Linked DNA regions of Homo sapiens. The protein of the gene in region 3 interacts with the protein of the main gene of each other region in a biochemical or structural test. Each region holds a gene or a part of one and is shown on either strand. Other genes may lie near its edges.

Region 1 (7,023 bases), on a different chromosome or scaffold from region 3:
GAAAGAAAAGACAGTGACAGGAGCAAAGAGAAGTCCAGGGACCAGTCTGCTCATGGGTGTCCCCCGCCCAACAGAGCCCCTGAAGTACAGAACCATGTGGCACTCCACAACTAAGAGGCCAAACGCTGGATGGGTTAAGCAGACACCAGGGAGCGCTGCTCTGACCATTCGGTGGGCTCCCCAGCCTTCCTGCCACCACTCCAAAGCAGGAGAGCCTGGCTTCAGTGGTGAGAGGGGAAGCATCTCCATCCACCACCAGACACATATGTCAAAACACAGACAACAAAACCAACAAAAACACCTTGAGGACAAGGCAGCCCTCCTGTCTCACACAGCTGGGATCTGCCCATCTCTTAGTGGTGAGGGAAAAGAAAGCTCAGGCGGAGGAGCAGCGCTCGTAGGAGGCACAAACAAAGCCCGCCCATCCAAGATGACACGCGAATGAAGATGAGACATGGACACACCAAACTATGGAGAGAGATGCTGCTCATTTCAGCCAAGACCACACTGTTCCAGACCATGATATGCTGTGGCCCCCCCACCCAGAAAGGACTGGCTGAGTTGCCACACATGGCTAGTTCCTGAACAATCCCCATGGGCAACTCCTTTGCCTTTGGTCTGTATTATTTATTGAAGGAGAGTATATGCTGATAGAACCCATTTGGTGTCTGTGCACCCTTGCACGCAGCAGGATGGCCACTAAGGCCTCATCATCTAGGTCTTTTTCATTTTCCACTCCAGGATTCTTTTCCAGAAAGGAAAATGAGGTTGGAGTTTTCCTGAGATAAAGCACTAACTATATATGGTCCATAAATGATGCTGAGGCCCCTAGCAGACCAGCTCAACCCCTTACAGGTGCTCTGTGGGAAGCCAAACAGTGGCTGTTTGCTGAGGCCCGGGATCTGCTGGGACATCTCAGATGCAGGTTGGGAAAAAGGGGTCACAGTACCCTTGCCCCTAGTTAGAGGACTGTTAACAGCTGCAATTCCTACACCCAATTCTTTAGCGTGGTATCACTGGGAGAAGAATCCAACCAGCAGGCACCCCTCCCTTCGACAATAGGCTAGAGATTAGCTGAGTGGTTACCTTGGAGAAACATTTCAAGCTTACTTCACTTCTAAGGTGGGATGCCATGCTCACGCCCTCCCACTTTGAGTAGCAAAAGGTAAACAAAGGCATGAATGATATGGACTTATTTGGGTACTAGGGATCCATAGCAAACATGTAACATATGGAGCCACATGCACTTCTTCCTGCTGTGATGTCAGAGTGCTCACAAACACTGCCCTCCCCTCACCCTTCACCCTCACCCATGTCCCCAATAGCCCCACCCCCACTATCTCCATTCATGCCACAAGTACAGTGAACGGTGTGTAAGTTGGACTTACTCAGGTTCTTTGCTCCATAATAATCGTCACTTAACCCCGGGAAGTCCTGATTTCACAGACAGCAAGGGCGGAGAGAGGACGACGGGGAGAAGAGGGGGGAAGGGGAAGGGATGGGAGGGAATGGAAGAGAGGGAGAGATTTGGGGAGAAGAGAAAAAATAGAGAAAAAGACAAGGGGGGAGGAAGAATACAGAGGTAGGTGAGCACTAGTGACAGAATTATGAAACACCATGAAGACCTAGCACTATAGTGAGGCCAGGAACTTTGCCACAGAAAGAACATCCCAGGGCAGATAAGACATCAAGACTTCATGCTGCCCAATTCATTGCCAGAGGGCCTTGGAGTAGACTAGCTTTCTGAGGTGTCTACAGCTGTAGGCCAATGGGACAGGACAGGTGACACTCCAAGGCTTAGAGCACCTGCTTTGACTAAATTTTGGTTGTGGAGCCCAGGTCTCTGTTTGCCCCTGAAATCACCATTTCCCTCTGCAGTGCGTGAAAGAGCAAATGTCCGCGTGTGCCAGGTAGGCAGATAGAATTGCCATCACCTCAAGAAGCCTTTGCCCAATACTGATTCACTCTGTTCAAACCCTTCAGGAAAAGTTTCGCATGGTGTAGAGTGTGGCCTCCAAAGCTGCCCTGAGCTGGACAGATCTTGGGGGATGAGCTCAGCTTCTGGAGAAGCACTAGGCACCTTCAACTCTGTCATCCAGTAGATACCCCCTCGCCCACCAGGCGGGACCACTGAGCAATGAACACCTCCCCAGGCTGGGCTTGGCATGGAGGGACTCTGGGACTCATCTGATGAAACTATGGTGACATCACCTCAGGCCTCTGACTCAGACTGTCTCCTAACTGCTCATGAGCAGAGCCACCCCGTCTATGGCTTCTCATTGAACTACTCCAGGATGATGAGCCGTGGCTGCCATCTAGATGAGGGCACCCTTCTGTCCACCAGGTACCACCCCAGATAGCAATGACTTACACATACCATGACTGTGGACCAAGCTGGCCTGACAGAAGGACATTTCCTATCAGAACCAGTCAGTCTCCTGCCAGCCCCAATAGACCAAGACCCCAAGATCCCTCCATGTAAGACAGAGGAGTCACTGGTAAATGAGAGATGTTTACTGTTCATGATGAGACAAGTGAGAAGACATTTTTCAAGCCAGACCTGGTGTTTAAGGTTAAGGTTGGAGCAGTTAATTGCTGAGGCACACGGTAGAGCAAGAAGATTTATCAGGATTAAATTTCTTCTTCCGTTGAATTTAGCTCAGTGTGACTGCTCTTCCTACCGAACCAACTTTGTGTTTCTCAATAGATCTTTATTTGAACAATGTGGAGCAACACTCCTTCCATGTCAACTCATTTAAGCAGGAAGGATTCTCCTGGGAAAACTGGCTCTGTAGGCACTCTAGGATGACAGCGAGTCTGCTGAGAGTTGTGTGGATATCCTGTATGCTTATGCACGTGCATGGGATTCCAGAAGTAGCCCCAACTCCAGGGATCCTGGGAAGAAAAGGCTCTTCTCTTGACATACATGAGTGAAGTTAAGGGAAAGAAAACACAAGAGGAAGAAACCAGGAGAGCAACACTGAGTCCCTAGACCTTGTTCTCTTGAAAAACCATTTTCCTGACCCTGACAGTCTAGCTAAAAAACCGTTCCTCACCACCACAGCAGAGCTCTGTCTGGCACTTCCACTGCTAGTGCCAGGCACTTCCTGGAGGCTGACCCTGGGACCAGTCCCACCTCAGTGCCTCCAACATTCATTCTAACTGAGGAGCAGGACAAATAAAACCCAACATCTCCTTAGGCAGACCAGTTTCTGCCCTGACTCTGTAGATAAGCAGGTGCACACGCACACAGGCAGGCACGAGGCCACACGTGGCCCTGCCCAGGCTTCTCTCGAGGGAAGGGCAACTGAGGATGAGAGGATGGGGCTGCAGATGGCCTGCTCTCTGGACTCTGCTGCTACTTACGTTCCTGTATGCTGCTCTCCTGGGCCATGTTTTCTTTGCTCTTGTAAAATGGAAACTTTCGAGAGAGGCGGAAACTCTTTTTACGTTTCGTTTTGATCGACTGTGAAAGAACATGAAGATGGAGGGGAAGGACAGAAGAAAAAAAAAAACAGAACAATGGATTTTAAAGCATGCAAGAAAAACTAAAATGGAGACAACGGTGAGCTAAATAAAAGACCATCTCTCACAAATGGAGTCTATGAGATTAAATGAAAGTTGATGTAAGAGGAAAATTATGTTTACAAGAAAATGTTGTAGGGATGTTAGAAGTTTCTACATAATCCAGACACTCATAACACTCACTGGTACTTCCTAAAGAACAAAGGTCACTGTAGCCTCCTGGACACATGCCCTAAGGTACCACTGATATACACATCTACTCCACGTCTCTCTTCCCTCTACTGCTCCAGAAGTTCTTTGGCCTGTGAAGCTCATAGAAAAAAAGGGGTGAATGGAGAACCCGCCTGCCTCAGGTGGTCTGAAGGGAGGTGGGAGCTCTGGAGCTGGGCTTCTTGGCCGGATGCTCTGACAGGATCTATAGCCAGGGAGACACCCACGAGTGGTTTCATTTTCCCCAAGCAAGTCAGCCTTCCAGACAGTCCAACTCTAACACATCTTCAAGAGCCGGTACCCAGGGGAAAGGAGCACAGACTGGCTGTGAACTTTAAGAGCTCCCTCTCTGCTTTCTGAAAAGCAGTCAATGTTCTGATAGGACAGAGCCAGCCCCCTGAAAAAGAGATTTTCTTTTGTGTTCCCCAGTTCTCCTACACATCAGACTAAACTCCAGGCTTCTCAACCCTCTTTACCTACTGGCTGATTTCCTTGGGGATCCCCACTTACCCTGTTAGACTCAATCATCCCCGTCCTGGCATGGAACTTCACAGTTTTCAATCGAGCTCTTTCTTTCTTTTCCACCCTGTTTTGGAATCAGAAAGAAGTCCTGTTACTGCCAGTAAATGGTCTCAGCAGTGGGTTGCAGCAGGCACAGCAGCCATTTTTTTGGCTCACTGAGTAAAAACCATGTTGAGTACCGACTCTACCAAAAAGGAATCAAGGCACAAACGTTGCTCTCAAGCAACTTCTAATAGGAAAACAAGAAAGAAATACCAGCAAGAGGGCAGGAAAGGCCTTGCTCATGATCATGACGACTCACCTCTTCTTACTGGGGATCACACCGATCTGCTCACTTTCTCCGTGTGGGGTCACCAGCCTTGCCTGCCACCACTCATCATCAGAGGCATTAATGACATGCAGAATGTCACCATAAGAGAAGCTGAGCCCCTGGCTTGGCAGGCAGCTGTCCCGAGTCCGATCATAATCAAACAGGGCCCTGAAAGGCACAGTGAAAGATGAAGTGATCATCCAACCCTAAATGCCAAGACACTGGCACCTTGAAAAGATGGAAGGCCAACCCAAACAGCACAGACATAGCAGCCTCACAGTATACTAGAAGGATGTCTCCAGGAGACCACATCCTTCTTTCTGAGCCAAAGTGGTAAATATGCACCCGCTTTCAAAGAAACATCTCATTCTCCCAATAAGAAGCATAAGAGAAAATATTTTACAAACCCCATCTCCTCTTGGCTTCTGGATGCAAGATAAAAGTCCAAAGTAGAACTCGCTCAATAGCCCTCTCCCTCACCCACATCCTAGGAAACTAGCTCTAGCAGGGCGCTTTCTCAGTTCACAAACATATCTTCAAAAAGTAGCTAAAGAGAGGACAAAAAATGTTAACTACAATCCCAAACAATGACTGGTAAACACTCCTGAAGCACTAAAGAAAGGGCCCTATGTCCTCGGGCAGCCAAAGAAAAAGCACAGAATGGTAGGGTTGAAAAGACCAATGGGACCATAGAAGTCACCTAGTGCGGTCTCTTTCTCTTACATATGGGGAAACAGAGGTTCAGGGAGGAAAAAATAGTTTGACCTAGGTCATACATCTAACCAACCTGGGACAAAACCCAGGTCTTCTGACAAGACATGCTGTTGTGACATGCTATAAATGATGCAGAGTAAAGAAATAAAAGGGAAGGTGGGAGAAGGTGGGGAGGGAGCTATACAATCCAGGCTTATGGAAAAGGACACCAGCTTGGCTGATGCTAGAAGTCCTAGGAAATGGTATTGGAAATAAAGGTCTGAAGCAAATTTTGGAAGCCCTTGAATAGACAAGATCTAGTGGCCCCTGGAAATCTGAGAGGAGTGACACATCAAAAGAGCCTTAGGAGGTCGGGCGCAGAGGCTCACGCCTGTAATCCCAGCACTTTGGGAGGCTGAGGCGGGTGGATCACCTGAGGTCAGGAGTTCAAGAGCAGCCTGGCCAATATGGTGAAACCCCATCTCTACTAAAACTACAAAAATTAGCTGGGTGTGATGTTGCATGCCTGCAGTCCCAGCTACTCGGGAGGCTGAGGCAGGAGAATCACTTGAACTTGAGAGGTGGAGGTTACAGTGAGCCAAGATTACGACACTGCACCCCAGCCTAAGCGACAGAGCAAGACTCTGTCTCAAAAAAAAAAAGCCAAAAAAAAAGTTTCTACTTTTCACATCCAGTGGAACCTGTCTTCATATGGAGTCACCACAAATGGGTGATTTCAGTGAGAAGTTTGTATTTTTCTACCTGCAATCTAGGCTGTCTTCTTCATATTCTCTGTTAATAAGGTGTTTTCACACCTTTGCACACACAGCCCAAAATCTAGTTCCAAGACTTTGACTTCTACCTGCAATACTGTGGCCTTTGGCTCAGTTGGAAGCTGCAAGTAAAACACACTATCTTACCATATGCAAGCCCAAATGAGATAGGATGTAGTAAAACCATGAAGAGTGAAATACTCACCTACTGCTTACAGCTCTTGAAACAGAGTTCTTAAAAATCAGCGTCAGATGATTTGAAAATGAAAATACCCAAACTCTAACAAAAAGCCCTTTTTTCCCCTCAATTTACACACTCAAAGCAGTAAGGAGAATGGCAGAGGCAGCAGACAAGGAGGTGCTGTCCGAGAGGTGCATTCCGGGCTATGTGTGACAGAATCAAAACTGAATGCATTCTCACTGCCTGAGTCCTGCATTTCCTAAAGCAAGGAAGACATTCTGTCAGCCACTCCTACTAAGAAGAGCATCATGAAGCAACCTCATTCTCAGTGACAATGAGAAACACTGGATGTCATTATGGGTTTCAAAGATTAGAACAAATATAGTAAGGAAAAGAACAGAACTTGAATTAAGCACAAATTAGTTTGGTGAGAGAAGGAAGGAAGATGTTAAAATGAATTTAGGAGGCCGGGCGCGGTGGCTCACGTCTGTAATCCTAACAATTTGGGAGGCTGAGGCAGGCAGATCACTTGAGGTCAGGAGTTCGAGACCAGCCTGGCCAACATGGCAAAACCCCGTCTCTGCTAAAAATACAAAAATTGGCCGGGCATGGTAGCGGGCACCTGTAATTTCAGCTACTCGGGAGGCTGAGGCAGGAGAATTGCTTCAACCTGGGAGGCAGAGGTTGCAGTGAGCCGAGATTGCGCCACTGCACTCCAGCCTGGGTGACAGAGCGAGACTCTGTCTAAAAAATAAATAATAAATAAATAAAATAAAATGAATTAGGGGAGTTAGGATGAATTTGTAGAA
Region 2 (7,517 bases), on a different chromosome or scaffold from region 3:
CCAACTTTGCCTCAAAATATTTCATGAAATTCAGAGTACTTTGTACGTTTCCAAATATACAAAATGTAGCCAACCTGCAACTCAACCTGAGAGAGACAAGACTATGTCAGATCTGGGATGTAATCTGGAGAAAATAATCTACCTCTAAGTGAGGATAGTTACCTTCCAGGCAATTCATTGTTCCTCTCCAGCTTTTAAATCCCTTAATCTCAATTCTAGACAATGGATTCACTTGATCATTTGTCAAGCAAAATCTCTCCACCCTAGCAGTTAAAAACTAAAAGTGGCCAACTAGACCTAAATCCATGTAAAGTTACATATCAAGGATTTCCAAGAGTCTCTCTGAATAGCTTCAACTTGTAGAAATATACTAAACTCTGAGACCAGCCTCTATTCCTCACAGTTAGGTACATTTAAATGCATCTGAAAAGGAAAGATGTCTTTAAGGGTCAAGCAGAGCAATGTCTAGGTGATAGGACTTTGAAGCACACTAAAAATTGACTAAAGATCCCTCCCTTTCCAAGCCACAACCTTCAGGCCTAGTCAATAAAAAGGAGTGTGGTAAAGGGACAAAGAAAACCAGAACTAGAGAAGGTAAGTGAAAAGAATAAACACAGAAAGGATCAAAGGAAAAAAAAAGGAACATATGTAAGAAATAAGGTACACCATAATCTATTAGTAATATGTTGAGAATAATCTTCATTAGTTTGTTTGTTTTGGCAAATGAGATAGGGAAGAAGAACGGAGAGTCAAGGGGTACCCAAAACTAGTTTTGCCTACATTGCACACAAGGGTACAGGTGCCTCCATCCAAAGCTTAGTATTGTATTAGAAGATCAAGTCAAGGAACGTTTTGCTAGGCTTTTATTTTTATTTTTTATTTATTTACTTATTTATTGAGTCAGAGTCTCGCTCTGTCACCCAGGCCGGAGTGCAGTGGCGCGATCTCGGCTCAATGCAACCGCTGCCTCCCGGGTTCAAGCGATTCTCCTGCCCCAGCCTCCCTAGTATCTGAGACTACAGGTGCGAGCCATCACGCTCCGCTAATGTTTGTATTTTTAGTAGAGACAGGGTTTCACCATGTTGGCCAGCCTGGTCTTGAACTCCTGACCTTAAGTGATCCACCCACCTCGGTCTCCCAAAGTGCTGGGATTACAAGCGTGAGCCATTGCGCCTGGCCAAGTTTTGCTAGGTTTTTAAAACACTATTGTTTGCCAAAATTCCATCAGGTGCTAAGGCATACATTATACAAATTTAGATAGTTCCAACATTACAAGATGTTCATTGTAATCACTCATACCCAAATTCAACATGTAAAACTCCCAAGCCCGAAACCATCACCTCCTCCTCGTTAGTTTTCAGATAAGGTGTTATTTATTCTATAAAGGGTAACCTAAACCAGGAATTTCTAGGGAAACACGAAGGGGATGTTTACATCAAACTGTCTACAAGGCAGGACGAGGCAGTCTGATCACTTATCAGATTCCTTCTCTATGACATCAAGGAACATGGAGAAGTTTTCCTTCTACGCTGGTGAAGTCATGGTCCTCTTATCTATCTGATGATACCTAGGAAACACTAGCCTCCAACCGCAGCCCCTACTGCAAAAAGGCAGTCAGTGCCCATTGCCGGGGTCTTCCCAAGCGGAGCACCTCAAAAGCCGCACCGCGCAGTAGAGGTCTCCAGGGGCCCCCACTCGCCCCCAGTGACTACGGAGCGGCCTCTACCTCCCGCCGGCGCCTGGCCACTTCTCCTCCCCCGCAGTCTCCGCTTGATTTCCATGTGACTGCAGGCAAGAATAGCCCAGCCTTTGTGCCTCTGCAAAGAACGCAAACAAAAATGTACACCATCACCACCCAACAAACGCGCAACTCCGCAAGACACAAAGCGTCTCCCAAACATCGCTTCCCTGGTAACATCCGGCATCCTGGGGCTGCCAAATCGCAGACAAAGACGCCCATCAGCGCGGGGGGTGAGGAGACTAAGGGAGAGACAAGACCAACGTGCTCCCACCAACGGGAGCGGCGGTTAAAAGGGCGCCGGTGCCAGGGGTGAGGGACGGGGCACCGGTACCAATTAGCGGCTCGCCTCGGGGTCCCCGCGGCTAAGGCGAGAACGCAGGACCAGGAGCATTGCTGCCCACTCTCTACCGCAACCCGCACATCCCGGGACCACGTAACGGCGGATGGGGCGTCCGGGAGCGGCCCCTGCAGGGGAGAGCAACAGGCTCCCGCGCCCTGGAGGCCTGGTCTGCGCTCCGGGCCCCCAGGCTAACACCCCACCCCCAGCCCCCCGACACCAAGACTGTGCCCCTCTGGGTCAAGGAAAAGGAAAAACTTTTAAACCTCTTAGTCAGCGAGAGCAAAAGAAAGGGGTGGCGGGGGTGCTGAAAGGTCTAGGATTATCCACCGCGGGGCTGGGGGGAGTGGAGACTTGCGAGTAGCAAAGGAAACTTCTAGACCCCATCCTTTTAAAAAAGCCACAGCAGCGGCTTCCGCGAAGCGCCGGGCCGCGCGGGGTGGGGCAAGCGCACCGCCCCACCGCCCCACGGCCCGCCGCCACCCCTACCCCCACCCCCACCCCCACCCCCATCCCCGCCCCCACCCCCACCCCCAAGCGCCGAGCCCAGGGCGCCCGCGCACCTTCCCCGCCGGCGCGCGCGCAGGGCGCGGGGGCGCGCCTCGGCCTCTGGGCCGGGGCTCAAGCGCCGCTTACCCGGCTCGCGGCGCCCGCCCAGGGCCGCGACGCGAGGGGGCGGAGGACTGGGGAGCAGGGGTCGCCGGGGCCTCTGGATGCCTCGCCTCGCCCACGCTCACTGTCTTCTCTTCTGAAGTAACGACCCGGCGAGGAGCTTCGGATCAAAACGCACAGACACTCACGCGTGACTGAGAAACTTAATCCCGCGGTGGCCCGACGCCAGCCTAGCGCTCCGCCGCGCCCCCTCCCCCAGCGCGCGCCGCACTTGCGCCGACCGGGGCTGCCGCGGAGGCGGTGGCGGGGCCCAGGCTGCTGGGGCTGCCGTGACGCCTGCGACCGGCGGGGCGGCGGGCGCGCCTTGGCCAATCAGGGGACGCGGCCGAGCAGGCCTGTGCGGGGTTTTAAACTCGCTCCTGGGCCGCTCGACCTGGGGTGTGGGTAGTGGACTTGTGAGGTGGTCAGATAAAATATAGGCTGCTCTGTTAAATGGGAATTTCAAATAAAAAAAAAAAGGAATAATTTTAGTACAAGTATATCCCATGCAATATTTGGGACGTACTTATGCTAAAAAGTTCTTCGTTGTTTATCGGAAATTCAAATTTAATGGCAGTCTTGTATTTTTATCTGCCGATTTTGTCAACCTGCGGAAACTGATAGCCTGTTTCTAGCTCCTCAGATTTTCCTTATGTGCACTGCCCTGTGGATGCTTTCTGCATGGGTAGCTTACTGAATGGCATAGGATGCTTATGAGAAGCGCTTTAATCAGAAGGGTGGGGGCAGTCCTCTCACTTTCTAAGTAACTTTTCGCACATCAGGGTGCATTCTTAGTCTGATGATCCAATTAAAAAGCAAAAACAGTAAACATGGAAAAGTTATTAGAGTTGCATGGCCCCAGGAAGAACAGATATTCATTTCTATTTTGTGCCACTTAAGATTTTCTTTCTGTTATCCTCAATTTGGAAGTCCCACGAATTTTTTTCTGCATAAGAAACTCTTTTTCAAAATATCCCTCTGATATTAGATTATAGGACCAAAGGATACTCAGAAGTCCAATTTAGAACATTTAAAAGAATTTCTTTTAATATTCTGAATAAAAATACTTTTTTCTCATATTCCTTGGACTTTCAAACACATTCACAGCTGTTGACCTCTCTCTTCCTAGAGTCCTCCCCACCCCACCCCTCTTGTAATTCCATGCAATCACACTCTTGGTTTTGCTTCTTCCGCTTAGTCAAGGGCGGATGTATGGGCTCTGAAGCTTGTACAATTGGGAGCTCTGCTTTAACCAAAAAAAAAAAAAAAATCTTTCTTTAGAAAAATTCAAAAAATAAATGCCCATGTAAACACATTGCTAGGGTTGCTCCCAGGCAAGAGAAGGACCCGGAACGTTAAGCTACATCAATTTCCAGGTAGATCTGCCCCTGTCCCCAGGCCACTCTTCAGTCTTCTTTGCCTCCTCTCCCCCAATCTTTAGATGCTGGAATTCCTTAAAAATCAGTTACGGGCCCTCTTTTCCTTTTAACTCTTACCTCTAAATACATTTTCACTTCTAGCTTATGATCTCGTACCTACAGAATCTTACATTTATACCTTCAGATTTATCCATATATTCAAGTGTTTATTTGGCTTCCCTGTTTGCTTGTCTCAAACCTAGATTGCAAAAAAAAATGCAGCCGTGATACTTCTGCTCAAGCCTGGTCATCTTGTTCAGTGTCCCAGTGAATGGAACTGCCATAGATGCTACATGATTCCCACAAACTACGATAAACCCATTGTGATGCATTCTTATGGTACCCTATGCTTTTGCTTCATAATATTTTTCCTACTTTGTAAATATGCATTTGATTTTGTAATTATGCAATGTCTCTTCCCTCTTCAACCATAAACTCCATGAGAACAGGGGCTAAGTCACCATTTTATCCTCAGAGCCTAGTAAAAACTTCACACTTGGTTGGCACTCATATGAAATAGGATGAATATACGACTGCAAGAATGAATAATTTCTCCATATAACTTTTGTGTTCTTGTCATAGAGTCACCTCAAGGCATCCCATTTGGAAAGGATTTTCTTATTGCTTAGAAATTCCAAAGGGATCCTCCTGTTTGAATAGCACTTCTACTTGTCAGTTTTCAAATCTGGTCATTCTCAAATACAAAGGAAGTACGTGCATGAAATGTTAGCTGCTGGGGTAGTGTAGGAGGAAAAGAATTTCATAACTAGCTACTGAAGGAATTCTTTGAGTCCTAAAATTTTAAATGGCATTTTTTATATTGAACCATAGGGAAAGAGCCCATAAAACTGAATTAGAGGAAAGTTTTAGAAATTTAATTCCCTGGTTTATTGTGGATAAATGAGATTAAAACAAATAATTTTACCTTGGTTTAAAAGGTGCTATTGTTCTAGTCTCCTTTAGCGAAGCAAAGCCCACATGCCCTCTTTAAACAGCAGTATATCAGAGGATAAAAAGGCATCTGGTTTAGATTAGTCCTTGCATAAAATTATCCAGAGTTTGGGGATAATTCCACCCTGAAGCTTCTCCTTTTGAAGTTAATCCGTATAGCTATTGCTCTATTCTCTTTAACTTGTTCTAATCCAGAAAACCTAAGATTTTCTAGAAATCCACCGGGGATATAGTGCACTAGTTTAAAAAAAAATACCTAAAATAAAAGTTAAAAACATTAAAGTTGAAATAAAATCTTGCAGAGAAAGACAAAGTGTAAAGCAGATAGAGTAGAGGTGCTCTACTCTATGGGATGGCTTGAAACCCCATACGTAAATAGATTAATAATGCTTTCTATTTCATGTTAATACAGGCTCTGGGGTCATTCCACCTATATCCTCAGTGAGGCATTCTCCACAATAATTTGTTTTTCTCAAATTTGAGTCATATTCAGAGGACTTTTATAAGGGAAAAAGTCCTGGAAACTTCTGAGATTGGTTTAAATTATTATTGTTGGTTTATTATTTATTGTTCATCATAATTGAACAGTACAAATATAAACTATGTATATGATATTATTTTACATTTGTGGCTCCTCTCCAACTCTAAAACTAGTGAAAGGCCCGGGTTATCTACTCAAAACCTTTAACGGCTGCTGAAAAGACAGATCCTGGAAATTAAACTTTTGATCCACCAAAATAACAGAGGATTCTTTTAGTTGCCTGCTGAGCACACAGTCTTCATTCTGCTTTTTAACAGCAGATAGCCAAGACGTAGGTGAGACCCCCATGCTGGGAGATGTTACTACAGAACTGCAGGGTTAGAACTCTATGAACCAAATCCTTTCCCAAGGACTGATTTGGGGTAATCCTAATAGTGGGGTGATGGGCTATTTTTATCACCTTTAGCCAGCAGTGACTCTTATTAATAATGCAGCATTTAAATGCAAACTAGATGGCATGCTTGCCAGTCCCTCTACCTAAGGGATATCTAATATATAACAACTGTGCAGTTTTAGTTTATTATAGTTTGTAGATTTTTTATGTTGTCTACTGGCTGACTGACTTTATGGTTTCAATTTGCCTCAGATGTCTCAATTAAAAGAAGAGTTCAGATAAATTTTTTTTCAGTTTGTTCAATGTTAAAAAGCATTTTAAATAATCCTTAATTTTTTCTCTCCATTGAAAAGAAGTCAAGGTTGAAAAAAGAAGATAAAGAAGAAAGAGAAGAACATTAGGATAATGGATATATATGTGTCTAGGAGAAAGCCATTAGGGGGAGAGAATGACTAAGAGAGAATCCCAGGAATGAGAAAAATGTAAAAATTATTTCTCTTTTGAGAACATACAGAGTAATCTGTCTCTCTTCATATAACAAACTGTTTATAGAGAGATAAAGGCTCTGAAATCTCCAGTGTGTCTGATTAGGCCTCATCTCTCTAAGCATGAAAGAAAGGGCATTGGGAGGTCATGACCTTCTGACCTTGAATTCATTTGCATTTGTACCCACAAAATTCTAACTCTATAAGGAAATTCCAGGAGAAAGCATTGGGGCCAGGTTAATTTTAGGAAGAAACACATCCAAACTGTTCCAGAATCTGTGCCTCAAGTTTATGCCAGCTAGAATGACATTTTGAACTATCTTACAAAATATCTTCCCTGTTATGCATACTCTGAGGGCATAAGTGAGTTATCCAAAAAGAAAATCAAGAAAAACAATAACAATAGTGAAAAGAATTTGTTCAAGTTGCATAGTATCTTTTAGGTAATACTCCCCCTTCATGATGGCAGAAAGAACAGAGGGGAAAAAATTGAGCTATTGAAAACACCACTGAGTCAGTGGATTATGTCTTACCTGAAGCCCACTCCACCTCTTGTCTTTCCACTTGTATGAGCCAATAAATTTTTTTTAGTTCTTAAACTAGTTTGAATTGAGTTTTCTGTTGTTTGTAACTAAAAGCATTCAAACTGATGAAATACACATATTAAGCCATTCACAGTGAGCTAGACAGGTACTTTTAAGTTTCAAGGAACACACTGAGATTACCTCAGTCGGAGCTTATTAAAGGATAACTAGGAATATAAGGAAAACATGAGTTTCCACTGGTGAACAGCCAGGTCTCACAGAAAATGTGACATCTTTCTGGTCACAACACAAACACACAGAAACAAAAGGTCATTTCAGAGGATGCAGCTCTAGAGATGAGATTTTCTTACAGTCTGTGTGATTCTACCATAATTATAATCCAGTATACCTCTGTCCCTATGTATCTAGCTTTTCTTCTTCCTCTAATGTTTGTTTATATTGGGTCCTTGAAAGTCTGGTAATCGTGGATGGTCTGTTTATATTTAATAATGAGGCAGTGAGCAGTGTGGGGCTC
Region 3 (7,786 bases):
TTTCTGACATGGATTTCAAAAAGCTCTCTAGCAACGCTGAGCACCCACAGCAAAATGCTTGCCTTTCTTTGTATTATCCAATTTGGCTGCCGCATTAGCCAGAGTTCATTGGGTAATTGCACAATCCCTTGTGAGGCTTTTATCTTAAAGGCTTACCCTTGGGGAACTAGAGTGCCTCAGATATCTGGTGCACAGAGCAAACTATAGAAAAGCAGAAAGGATCTTTGATTCTGGAGTACACAGGAAATGCTAACGATGCCCAAGGTAACCATCATGTACTCATGTACACAGCAATGAGTACACTGAAAAAATATATCATCTTTCCTCCAAAATGGAGGCTGCTCATGTGATCCCAGGTGGATAGGAGGCAGAGTGATATAATGAATGAAAGCATGTGCTTTTGAGTTAAAAGGGACCTGGGTTTAAGTTTCAACTCTGCCTTTTAGTCTCTTTTATTACTGCAGCCGTCTGAGCTTCAAACTCTCATCTGCCAAAGGAGCACTGGAGTGAGTATTGATGAAAAAAAAATGGATGTTAAGTGATTAACTTGGTGCCCAACACATGTGAAGAGTTCAGTCAGTACTAGCTAACAATCACAATAAGATTTGTGACAATAATGTACAAAACTCAGATAATTAAACAGGAGCCTTCTTTATGGTCAAGTGAAAGAAGATGGGGCCATTTCATCTGGAGAAGAGCCAACCAGAAACACATGAACAATTCTATTTATTTTTATTACACAAGTAGTACACATTCATGGTAAAAAAAAATTACAATGTAATACAAGCTGAAATAAACTTAAATAATGAACTTTACCACCAACCAGACATAGCTAAAATTTTGCATATATGGTTTTTTTATCTTTCTTGAAATATATACAAATATTTTTGAACAAAAATGAGCACACTTATAATGCTGTTTGTATCTTGCTTTTTTCTTATTTCGTGTCATGATCACCTTTCTTTGCCAACTAACAACATCAATGTCATCATTTAACTGGATACAGAATAGCCAATTATATAAACATTATGAAATTTGTTTAACCAATTTCCCACAATAGCTATTATTTAAGTTGTAAGAAAGGACCATGTGCCCTGGGCTCAACCAGATTGGACCAGTTCTGGTTCCACCTGGGAAAGATCCTATGTTCTCTTGGTCTCATCTTTACCATCTTTAAAATAAGAATTACATCCTCCAGTTCTTAAGGCTAGTATGTGGATCAAATGAACTGATGCCTGTAAACATGTTTTGTAAATAGTAAAGTACTATGTGAATGTTTACATTCATTAAAGAAGGTACTAAACAGGTGTTCTCCACTGAGTCAAAACAAGAAGAAATTAGATTAACATGCTGTTGGTCTCATTGGGATGATTCCTAGCCTGTAGCAGGCTGAGTGCAACAGCAAATGCTTCAGTGTGGTTTAGGCGCTGTGGCTCTGTTTTCAGTCCCTGATGGGAGAAACCAGAACGCAGCCCTGGCATAAACTCTATCCACTTTCCTCCTGAGGATATGAGGTCCAGAGAAGGTAAATGCCATGTCTATGTGGCTCCTGAAAGCCAGAGTGAGCCACCTTCTGCCTCCAAATCCAATCCCATCGATCTTCGCTGTGCCCACAGTGTGTTAGTGAACTGGCCAGCTATTAAATGCCCACCTTGTGTTTAATCTTGAAGAGTTTTAAAAGGAAGCCTGGCTGCCTTGGTAGATTCTAGCAGATATGGGCGTGATTCAGATACATTTAGAACACACTTGAGCCTCAACTTCTCTAACTTTTAACCACCGAAGCACTGGAAACAAATCCATCTCTTTAAAACATTAGTAAATCGAAACACAAGTAGATTCTTATCTCAAGAGTTTATGTGGCTGAGTAGATGATAGAAATTTCTAGAAGTCTTATGTTTCCCACAAATTATTTTATAATTTGCATTATTTATGTAGTGTTGAAAGGGAGATTTGGTTGGCTTGCCTTAAATTATACCTCCCTTTCTCCTAATACATATTACTCTCAGGTATATTTCAGAGACAGAAAAATATTTTGAATGACCTAGGTCATCTGTTTTTATGCTGACCACCCATTAGAACCACCTGAGAAGTTTCTGGAAAACAAGATAAAATACTGCAGATGACTCACTGATCTCCAAAAGTTAAGCTTCAGTTATTCTAGGGGTAATTTTCTAATCTCCTCAGAGTCGGGTGATTCTGGCCAGATGTGCAGCCAGGGTTGAGAAACACTGATTAGGGTCCCAGTGGGGTAAGGAACAGATTATATGCTCATGATCTCACATACTCTTTCATTCTCATTGTGCCTCTGAGCAAAACCATTGAAATATATGTGCTCAGATTTAACTTCTTCTACCCCTAAAACAAGACACTGAATGGAAAAAATATATCTTATATAATAGAAGGACCCAAACTATGAAAAAGAGGATAACAGCCAAAAATGGAGGAAGTATAGTAAAGTTCCTCAATGCAATAATATGCAGCAGCTTTAATTTATGATTACAAAGAATTCACAGCAACATGGAAAAACCATAGACTGATATGGAGGAAATGAATACAAACTTGTCCATAGTGTAGGGACGCAACTATGAAAACTAAAGTTATATGTGCATACACACACACACACACACACTCACACACACACACACACACACACACACACACACACACACACACACACACACACAAAGGGACGATCCCCAAAATATCAATAGAGGCTATTTTGGTGGAGAATTTGGCTTCTTTCAACATTTTTATACTTCCACAGTATTTTTTAAACTACCATGTACATGATAGGAAAATAACATTTATAGTAGAACAAAACAAATTTACTTTTAAAAAATTACTCCTCTGACTATTATGTGATCATCAAGTCATGATGCTCAACACTGAATTAACAAAACAAAGATTAAAATGCCCACCTGAAGGTCTCTGTCTTTCAGCTGCCCTGGCTTCTGCTGCCTCTATCTCTCCTGCCTTTCTCCTCCGAGTAATTCAGGTTGCTCATTTCAAAGAAAAGTGAAAGAGCAAATTATATTTATGAACAGTGCCAACCAATAGCAAGCAAGTCAGGAAGTGTAGCAGGTCATCTGTGCTTTTTAGAAGCCATTGTAGATGTTAGTGCAAGCTCCCTTCTCAAGAAGGGTGAAAATTTCCAGTTAGGGGCTATGTCTAAAAAGAAGAAACCTAAAATTGCCCTGCCCCTCTAATGACTGGTTTTTTGTCATTATCTTTCTCAAGAGATCAAGCGGATATGATGGGTTAGAGTCAGGAATTTTAAGTGGCTTTTAGTTCTCCTAAATGGTTTCTGTTTCCATGGCAACAGAAATAGCAACATTGCCTTACACACATAGCACTTTAGACTTTTTTAAAGCACTTCCCTCACTCACTTGCATTTTCAGCTCACTTGCACTCAGGCAGAGACCTTATCCAGTCTGCTGAAAATGTTCTGTCAGAGGTCACCAAAAACCTCCTTGTTGCTTACATAAAAAATCCTTTCTCAGTCCTCACCTTCCTTCCCCTCTTGTTTGCATAGTTGACCATTGCCACTTTCCTGAAACTTTTCCCTTTTTTCTCTGACTTTCCTGGTTCTTTTTCTACCCCTCAGATTGCTCTTCTTTGCCTCTCTTTCTGATGCCTCTTCTTCCACCCCTTTTCTACGTGTGAGCTTTCCCCAGAGGTCTGTGTTCTGACTTCTTCCCTCCTTCTCTTGCTTTTACCTATCTGATCCACAATCATGGCCAAATTTAATGTGGCCCAGGTGGAGCTTTTCTCTTCCTCTCTTAGTCCTGCATCCCCCCATCTACCCTGTCTAAGCAAATGGCACCACAATAATTTAGCCAGTTCATCCATCCATAAACCTAGAAGTCACTTTTAACTTCCCTCTTTCTTCCACCACCCACTTCTGAGCCAACAAGTTCCATTTGTTCTGCCCATAAAATATGTTCCAAATCGAACCATTACTCATCTCTCCATCACTGTTCAAATCCTCGTTTCCTGCATAGAAAGCTGCAGTAACATTAAGCAAGAAAAATAAGTAAAAGGGATCCAAATTGGAAATAAATAAGTAAAATTTTGTCTGTTTGCAAATGATAAAATCTTATATGTAGAAAAACCTGAAGATACCATGCACACACACACACACAAAACCCCAATAGAACTAATAAGCAAGCAAATTGAGCAAAGTTGCAGGACAGGAAATCAATACACAAAAATCAGTTGCATTTATATACACTAACAATAAACAATCCAAAAATGGAAACTAAGGAAACTATTCCATTTATAATAGCATCAAAATGAATAAAATACTTTGGATATATACTCAGTAGTAAGGTTACTGAATCTTGTTGAGATCTCTGCACTCTCATGTTTACTGTAGCACTATTCACAATAGCCAAAATATGGATCACCCGAAATGTTCATCAACAGAAAGATGGATGAAAAATGTGGTATATATTCACAATTGAATACTATTTACTGATTTAAAAAGAACAAAATTTGTCATTTGTGGCAACATGGATGAGCTTGGGAGACATTATGTTAAGTGAACTAAGCCAGGCATAGAAAGATAAATACTGCATGTTCTCACTCACATGTGGAAGCTAAAAAATTTGATCCTATAGAAGTGGAGAGTAGAATAGTGGTTACTAGGGGCTGGGAAGAGTACTTTCTAGGGGTGAGGGTGAGTGGTTTTCTGTGCAGCTTCTTCATGCAGCTGTGGAGAAGGGGCTGGGACCAAGGTTGCTCCTCTGAAGACAAGGTTCTTCCTGGGTCTGGGATTCTATTTCTAGTATTTTATTTATCCCAATTAGAACTCACAGTACACAAATGTTATATTACCATTCTCATCTTTAGGGGGCAAAAAGCTTGAAACAACATTTCATTCTACAAGCAGTCACTATAGATATTCATTCTTCTCCAATAAAAGCCCAATTGGCCAGGCGCAGTGACCTCACGCCTGTAATCCCAGCACTTTGGGAGGCCAAAGTGGGCAGATCACGAGGTCGGGAGTTGGAGACCAGCCTAGCCAATATGGTGAAACCCTGTCTCTACTAAAAATACAAAAATTAGCCAGGCATGGTGGCACGCGCCAGTAGTCCCAGCTACTTGGGAGGCTGAGGCAGGAAAATCATTTGAACCCGGAAGGTGGAGGTTGCAGTGAGCCAAAAAGCCCAATTAATTGACTAATGTTCATCTCATTAAAATGAATAAAGTGGGCTGGATGGAGTGGCTCACCCCTATAACCCTAGCACTTTGGGAGGCTGAGGCAGGAAGATCTCGAGTCCAGAACAGACTGAAAGCAGTCTGAGTGACACAGGGAGACCCCATCTCTAAAAAAAAAAATACAAAAATTAGCTGGACATGGTGGCATGTGCCTATAGTCTCAGCTACTCAGGAAGCTAAAGTGGAAGGATTGCTTGAGCTGGGGATGTTGTGGCTGCAGTGAGCTGGGATCACACCACTGCACTCCAGCCTGGGTGACAGAGCAAGACTGCCTCAGAAAAAAAAAAAAAAGGCTCATGCCTAATCCCAGCACTTTGGTGGGCTGAGGCGGGTGGATCACGAGGTCAGGAGTTCGAGACCAGCCTGGCCAAGATGGTGAAACCCCGTCTCTACTAAAAACACAAAAATTAGCCTGGCGTGGTGACAGGCACCTGTAATCCCAGCTACTTGGGAGGCTAAGGCAGGGAATTGCTTGAACCCGGGAGGCGCAGGTTGCAGTGAACTGAGATCGTGCCACTGCACTCCAGCCTGGGTGACAGAGTGAGACTCTGTCTCCAAAAAATAAAAAATAAAAATAAAAATAAAAAAAATTAAAAACTTTAAAATAAAATAAACAGTGAAAAAAAATCGATCCTACACTCCGAGAGCTAACTTTTGAATATTAGGTTTTCAAGGAGCAGAATATGTTTCAAGAGTATTAGAAAGATAATGAGGGAAATGCTTTCTCCCTACTCCCTGCTTCTGAATCTGTAAACCTCAGAGAAAGGAGAAACCTATTCAAGACTTTCTTTTATTTTTAGGACAGCCTGGGATCTCTAAGCACTCCATAGGCAGTAAATTTGCTGGAGAGTGCCCATTAGACACTCTTTCTTTGTACAATTTGGACAGATGATATAAAGAGATGCAATGTCATTTTAACCGGATTTGTCAGGATGGAGCAAGAAATCATTCATTTAGAGTAGATAGGGAAAGGGTCGATGACTTTAAAAAGAAGATAATCCTAGGGAGCAGAGAAAGGAATAAACACATTATCCTATGTGCTGCTCTTGATGATTTAAAGGAAAACATGGAAGCGTGTTTAATGTATATGGCACACAGAGAACTTCTCCGGAACTTTCAAAGGCCTGCAGAAGTAATCAAGAGATGAGAATCAACTCCAGTTTTGTAGGAGACTTCCAAGTTTGTTCTCAGTTGAACAAAGTGAGTTTAAGAGAATCAGGGCCAGTTTCTTGCTGATTACAGTAATGTACCAGCCACAAGGCCTTTAGTTAGACTTTTAGAGACATAAGCTTGAGTCTAGAGGATATATTCCTATAAGCACAAACCTGTGATTTTCAAAAGATCAGAAGCACTATTAAGTTACTAAGGCATCAGAGACAGTAGTTTGTTTTCATAGTGCAAGGTTAAATACAAAGGAAGAAGTCAGCGTGAATCATGTTTCTATTTAGGTCATTAAGAAAGTGGAAGAACAGGCTGGGCGCAGTGGCTCACGCCTGTAATCCCAGCACTTTGGGAGGCCGAAGTGGGCAGATGACGAGGTCAGGAGTTCAAGACCAGCCTGGCCAACATGGTGAAACCCTATCTCTACTAAAAATACAAAAATTAGCTGGGCATGGTGGCAGGTGCCTGTAATCCCAGCTACTTGGGATGCTGAGGCAGGAGAATCGTTTGAACCTGGGAGGTGAAAGTTGCGGCGAGCTGAGATTATACCGTTGAGCTCCTCAGCCTGGGCAACAAGAGCGAAACTCCATCTCAAAAAAAAAAAAAAGAAAGAAAGGGGAACAATGGAAACAAACTTGAAACCTCATGGAATTTAGAAAGCAACCAACTTTATGTGTAAGAGAGCCTGTTCTGTGATAAGACAGAGAAAAGAATTACGTAGTGTAGTGGGCTACACATTGGCACCAAAGACATGCCCATATTCAAATCCTGGATTCTGTAAATGTGACCTTATGTGGCACAAATGGTGGTTAATTAAGGATCTTGAGGCAACGAGTTTATTTTTCATTATCCAGGTGAGCCCAAAATACAATTACATGTATCCTTGTAAGAGAGACGACAAAGGAGTGTCAACAAGCTCACACAGGGGAGAAGGCCATGTAAAATGATTAAAGTGATGCAGCTATAAGCCAAGGAACACCTGGAGCCACTAGAACTGGTAAATCAATGAAAGACTCCCCCTAGAGCCTTCAGAAGAGGGAGTGCAGCCCTGCTGGCATCTTGATTTCTGACTTCTGCCCTCCAGAACTGTGAGAGAATGAATTTCTGTTGCTTTAATTTAAGCCATCAAGTTTGCAGTACTTTGTTATGGTAGTCCTAGGGAACACATCTACATTTCCCTTCTCCAACCAAGGGAACCCAAAATTCAGGGAGAAAGTTATAAACTTGCCATAAGATAACGCAATAGACTTAACTAATTCATAGTGAGCTTGCATCCTTTTTAGTTTGTTTCGATTTTCAGTCTCTCATATGTAATTCTCCCTTCAAAAAGAACAATTTAGCTTCCCAAGCAGTGTCAGCTCTCTGGAGAGGTGATGAGGCTGGAGTGAGCATTAATGTCCGCTCC

What was found. The genes of interacting proteins can lie anywhere in the genome.
Region 1: the proteins of CYSLTR2 (region 3) and DLG3 interact in a test that uses a peptide from one of them, tested with the Homo sapiens proteins (2 studies listed by IntAct, with this or other methods).
Region 2: the proteins of CYSLTR2 (region 3) and MPDZ interact in a test that uses a peptide from one of them, tested with the Homo sapiens proteins (2 studies listed by IntAct, with this or other methods).

What each region holds. Positions count from the first base shown.
Region 1 is NC_000023.11:70,489,819-70,496,841, reverse strand, and holds part of DLG3 (disks large homolog 3), read right to left. Parts: intron 4,736-7,023; coding exon 4,559-4,735; intron 4,322-4,558; coding exon 4,246-4,321; intron 3,467-4,245; coding exon of another isoform or gene 3,367-3,466; intron 1,435-3,366; coding exon 1,389-1,434; intron 1-1,388. UniProt on the Homo sapiens protein: Required for learning most likely through its role in synaptic plasticity following NMDA receptor signaling.
Region 2 is NC_000009.12:13,276,686-13,284,202, forward strand, and holds the start of MPDZ (multiple PDZ domain protein), read right to left. Parts: upstream 3,008-7,517; 5' UTR 2,715-3,007; exon of another isoform or gene 2,345-2,714; intron 2,073-2,344; exon of another isoform or gene 1,727-2,072; intron 87-1,726; exon of another isoform or gene 1-86. UniProt on the Homo sapiens protein: Member of the NMDAR signaling complex that may play a role in control of AMPAR potentiation and synaptic plasticity in excitatory synapses. Promotes clustering of HT2RC at the cell surface.
Region 3 is NC_000013.11:48,649,150-48,656,935, reverse strand, and holds the start of CYSLTR2 (cysteinyl leukotriene receptor 2), read right to left. Parts: upstream 3,008-7,786; 5' UTR 2,919-3,007; intron 1-2,918. UniProt on the Homo sapiens protein: Receptor for cysteinyl leukotrienes. The response is mediated via a G-protein that activates a phosphatidylinositol-calcium second messenger system.